Regions from separate parts of the Homo sapiens genome. Here region 1 is linked to region 2. A link means that fine-mapping ties the variant in region 2 to the expression of a gene that starts in the linked region. Tissue or cell type: whole blood. Region 2 holds a variant in brackets; the other region holds the start of a gene. All regions are shown on one strand. Distances are from middle to middle.

Region 1 (2,618 bases), 26 kb after region 2:
CTGCGGCAGGAGCCCCCAACTTACTGGCCTCGGAGTCATGACAAGGCTGGGCGAGCAGCTCGGCCTCGGGCGTCGGTTCCACTTCTGCCGGCGGCGGGAAGTCGCCGCCAGCGGACGAGTCGTCCCCATTCTGGCCCTTCTCGCCCTCTCTCAGGCAGCTAGATTCTGGACAGGCCTGGGTCTGCAAGGGAGGTGGTTGGGATTCCAGGCTCCCTTCCCCCTCCGGCCCCGGACGGCCACCCAACTGGGGGAACGCTCTCGATTGCCACCTACTGTCCTCCTCGGGCACCCGCTCCTCCGCGCCTGGGGGGCGCTCAGGGTTCAGCTCTTCCTGGACAGCAGCAGCACCTGTACAGTTGCTAGTTTGAGGCTGGTGTTGATATTCTGACAAGAATGGCTCGGCCATGGCTAGTAGAGTCCTCGAAGTTTAAGAAATTTTGGCTAGTAAGTCCTTAAGGAAAAAAATGGGTTTTTCTTAAAAAAAAGAAAAAGAAAAAAAAAACAGTCCAACAGAGTCCTCTTCAGTTTGTAATTCCTGCAGTGACGCCTTTAGCTAGTCCTTCTATCAGCAAACTCCAACTGCAATCTGGGGAGCTCAAGTCAGTAAAGGGTTAAGCGCCCACAGTGCGGCCAGCTAGCGGGTCCAAGGGGGTGCAGCGGCAGGAACAGTACGTAATGGGCGGAGGTGGGCCTCAAACCTCCAAGCGGAGCACCCCAATAAAGGAGTTGGTGAGCAAGGTGATGAGGGTAAGTCCAGTGCGTGAAACCCAGCCCCGAAGGGGTTAAAACTACCGATGACGCTGCCTCCGAGGGGCCAGATCCACAAAGGGTTAAATCCCCTGCCGCAGAGCCCACAAGGGGTTAAAGTCCCGGCGCCACCTCCTCCCACTTCCACGGGTGTCGCTTCCACCCAAGCTCCCAGTTCCCTAGGCCCGGCCGTAGCCTCAGCAGAGGACAGACAAACTCATCTCCCCTTTGGCTCGATGCTCTGCTCTGCTCAGTTCTCCTCCGCCTCCTCCTCTTTTCCTCCCTCCCTCCTCCCCCTTCCCACAGCTCCTCTTCCGCGTCCTCCCCCGACTTTCCCTCCCAACCTGCCTCTCCACCTGCCAACTTCCAACTGCTGTCTCCCAGTCCTCTGCGCCCCTTTTATATAGAAGCTTTTTCGCCCCGCCCGTGCGCATGCGTAACGGAGTTCCCTTTGCGGGGCGCCGGGAGTCGTAGTTCTTATCTTTCGGGCCCGCCGCCCTCGCGCGCCGTGCGACGTAGCCAATCCCAGGACGCGTAGGGGGCGTCTCCCTGGCCGCCACCTTCCATCGCTTAGACCTCGCTAAAGAAACGCGAGCGGCCATTGGTGAAAAATCACACGACTCGCTGAGGAAGGACGGCCAATCGCAGAGAAGATGGGGCGGGTTCTGGACCGTACCATTCTGTTTCAGGAATACGAGAAGATTCGATGGCCTATGAGAGTCCTCACAGAATATTTTTATGAAAAGGTGCGTTATAAAGGCTATTATCGTATTTTGTTCTCAGCGGAGGGGTTCCGAAGGTTATGAACCTTTATTAACTAACGCAAGAATGGTTTATTCCTAAAAAGTAGTCCCTAAAATGTAAAAGAATTAAATCCTATAAAGAGAGACGTCGGCCCACGGCTGCTAACTCGCGAGTCTTAAGATTATAGAAATGGCTTCAAGGCGGGTGGTGAGTGCCTGAGACTGACACTTGCGGAAGGATATCGCGAGCACATTTTGTAAAGACCGAAGAGCGCATGAAGAAGTAAACAAATGAAGAATAAAAAGTGCCGCCTTAAAGGGACAGTGTGACTGCGTTTAGCGCCGCAGGCTCGCACTAGGCCTCGGAAGACGAAGAGGCGGGTTCGAGTCCCGGTGACGCGACTCCCGGACTGACCTCGGTACCCTTAGCTGAAGGTGGCGGAGTCCCAGCCCCAGCCTGGTCTCAGAAAGCCGCCCCCGCCCCAGGGGCAAATGCAAACTGGTGATTCGCGACCAAGGCTCTTCCCTGGGCCGAGATCGGAAAGCCGGGGCCGGGGGCGGGCGGGGGAGTGGAGGGGGAAGCGGGGGAAGGCCACGCCCCCACGCCTCAGCTTCTGTCGAAGAAAATGGCCTCCTGGGGCCGATTTGGTCTTTTCACTTCCGACCGAGATCATTTCCTGAGCCGGGACAGAGGAGGTCCGGGACAGCCATGAGGCTGTTTGTTGGGAAGAGTTCGGAATGATTAATGAGTTGAAATCATCAGCCCTGGCTATCCGAGAGGGAAGCAGGTCTCACCCGCAGAGGCCCTTCCTCATCAGTGGGCGCTGGGCAAGACTGGGAGGGAAGCATGGAGGAGGCCTTGCTCCGAAACTTGCTGCAGGGGATTCTGGCGCAGGGCTGGGGGGGCCGATTCCCCCGGGGGCGTAGTTTCTCAGAGAGAAATTCTCTAGACCCAAGCCCCCAGCCCTCCATAAACAGGGACTGAGAGGACCCAGAGAACCCTCCATACCAGTCACTGAGGCCTAAAATCTTGGCGCCCTTTCCACTTCTCCTTCGCCACACACCCAGTGACCCTTTCTTCTTATTGCTTCCTTAATAGCATCCCTGACATTCCAGCACGTTTGCACT
Region 2 (2,751 bases):
TGAGTAGCTGGGACTACAGATGTGCACCAACACACCTGAATGTTTTGTTTGGTTGTTTTTTTTTTTTTTTGGTAGAGACAGGGTCTCATCATGTTGCACAGGTTGGTCTCGAACTCGGGCTCAAGCAATCTTCCCACCTGGGCCTCTCAAAGTGCTGGGATTACACATGTGAGCCACCATGCCCTGGCCTTATTCACTTTTTTTCTTTTCTTTTTTTTTTTTTTTAAAAGGAGTCTCGCTCTGTCGCCCAGGCTGGAGTACAGTGGTGCGATCTCGGCTCACTGCAACCTCCGCCTCCTGGGTTCAAGAGATTGTCCTGCCTCAGCCTCCCAAGAAGCTGGGATTATAGGCACATGCCGCCACGCTCAACTAATTTTTTTTCTTTTTTCTTTTTTTTTTTTTTTGTTTTTTTGAGACGGAGTCTCACTCTGCTGCCCAGGCTGGAGTGCAGTGGTGCGATCTCAGCTCACTGCAACCTCCACCTCCCGGGTTCAAGTGATTCTCCTGCCTCAGCCTCCTGAGTAGCTGGGATTACAGGTGCACGCCACCACACCCGGCTAATTTTTGTATTTTTAGTAGAGACGGGGTTTCACCATGTTGGTCATGCTGGTCTCAAACTACTGACCTCATGATCCACTTGCTTTGGCCTCCCAAAGTGCTGGGATTACAGGTGTGAGCCAGCGTGCCTGACTTAATTTTTATATTTTTTAGTAGAGATGGGGTTTCACCCTGTTGGCCAGGCTGGTCTCGAACTCCTGACCTCAGGTAATCCGCCCACCTCAGCCTCCCAAAGTGCTGGGATTACAGGCATGAGCCACCCACACCCGCCCTTTGTTCACTTTTAAAGGGGTGATTTTGTGGCATGTAAATTTCACTTCAAGAATGAAAAATAGGCTGGGTGCGGTGGCTCACGCCTTTAATCCTGGCACTTTGGGAGGCCAAGGTGGACGGATCACCTGAGGTCAGGAGTTTTTTGTTTTTTTTTTTTTTGAGACGGAGTCTGGCTCTGTCGCCCAGGCTGGAGTGCAGTGGCGCGATCTCGGCTCACTGCAAGCTCCGCCTCCCAGGTTCATGCCATTCTCCTGCCTCAGCCTCCCGGTAGCTGGGACTACAGGCGCCCGCCAGCACACCCGGTTATTTTTTTGTATTTTCAGTAGAGACAGTGTTTCACAGTGTTAGCCAGGATGGTCTCGATCTCCTGACCTCGTGATCCGCCCACCTCAGCCTCCCAAAGTGCTGGGATTACAGGCGTGAGCCACTGCGCCTGGCCAGGAGTTTTTGAGACCAGCCTGGCCAACAGGCTGAAACTCTGTCTCTACTAAAAATACAAAAACTAGCTGGGCATGGTGGCGGGCACCTGTAATCCCAGCTACATCGGAGGCTGAGGCAGGAGAATTGCTTGAACCTGGGAGGCGGAGGTTGCAGTGAGCTGAGACTGCGCCATTGCACTCCAGCCTGGGCAACAAGAGTGAAACTGCGTCTCAAAAACCAAAACAACAAACAAAAAAAGAATGAAAAATAAGCTGGGCATGGTGGCTCATGCCTATAATCCCAGCACTTTGGGAGGCTGAGATGGGCAGATCACCTGAGGTCAGGAGTTTTTGAGACCAGCCTGGCCAACAGGATGTAAACCCGTCTCTACTAAAAATACAAAAATAAGCTGGGCGTCGTGGCAGG[T/C]GCCCGTAATCCCAGCTACTCGGGAGGCTGAGGCAGGAGAATTGCTTGAACCTGGGGGGGCAGAGGTTGCAGTGAGCTGAGATCGCACCACTGCACTCCAGCCTGAGCAACAGTGAGACTCTGTCTCAAAAAAAAATAAATAAATAAAAAATAAAAAGAATGGTACCAGTAGCTAAGAGTGGACAAGTGCTAAAGAGGTAGGGGTGGTAACAGGAGGGGCTGAGGGCTGGGAGAGGGGAAGACTTGGCAGAAACAGGTAAGGTTTAGGTGGTGGAAAGGTTTGAGGGAAGGTCCCAGGCTGCAGGTGAAGGTAGTCTGGAGGAAGCTGACTTTGATCCCTTGGCCAGCAGGGGAGAAGCAGAAGGAGCGGGATTCAAGGAAGGCCCTTGCAGCCTCTGGGCTGTTTGCTTCCTCTCTGACTGGAAGGTCCTGGTTAGGGGGTAGGGCCTGCATCCTTTGAGCTGTTTCACTTTCAAAGTGGCATCACAGGTGGATGGTTCTTTTAAAAACCCTGGCACCAATGGAATGAAATGGAACACGTAGGCAGCAGGAAGATTCGCCGCCGCCCACACCAGGGAAGTGAGGCCGGCACTGGGCTGCATGTGTGCCACCTCCAGGCGGCCAGGAGACTCCCCAGGGCAGAGAGGGCCTGCCCAGCACCCATGGCAGCTTCAGCACTTGCAGAGGGCAGCACCCCCTGGGGCCTGGGGTGGGGGAAGGGATTGGGTGAGCACCATGGGCTCCTTTGTCAGACCCAGGAAGGAGAGTGGGGGCAGCTACCGGAAGTAGGGGGATGAGAAGCTCCCTCCGGAATGTATGCCCCCCTCTCCCCTCCCCTCTCCTCCCCTCCCCACATGCACAGCCCCTGCACATGCTCAGTGTGCCCATGAATTGGGTTGGTTGGGGGAGGGCACTGACTGGCACCCCCACTTAAAGGGCCAGTGCCACACTTGCCTGTTCCCAACAAGGGCAATGGGACCTGGCCACCTTTCCCCCCAATACCGTTACTTCCCTTTGGACCCCCTCCCCCCACTCCCTGGCAGCTTCTTCCTGCCCCAGCCCACCAATCTCTGC

What was found. PIP is the estimated chance that this variant, and not a neighbour inherited with it, causes the effect.
Region 1: HEXIM1 starts here. The variant in region 2 is fine-mapped to the expression of HEXIM1 in whole blood (INTERVAL, PIP 0.92).

What each region holds. Positions count from the first base shown.
Region 1 is chr17:45,146,979-45,149,596 of GRCh38, reverse strand. It overlaps HEXIM1 (HEXIM P-TEFb complex subunit 1), which reads right to left and starts at 1,122. Exons shown (of 1, transcript NM_006460.3): 1 at 1-1,122. The coding sequence starts at 406. RefSeq lists enhancers at 1-19, 424-533, 584-633, 684-733, 1,137-2,019.
Region 2 is chr17:45,172,493-45,175,243 of GRCh38, reverse strand. No RefSeq gene overlaps it. Among named protein-coding and RNA genes, the nearest start is that of HEXIM2-AS2, 2.4 kb to the right of the region's middle. RefSeq lists enhancers at 1,034-1,991, 1,992-2,751. The variant T/C (reference allele first, on the strand shown) is at 1,678.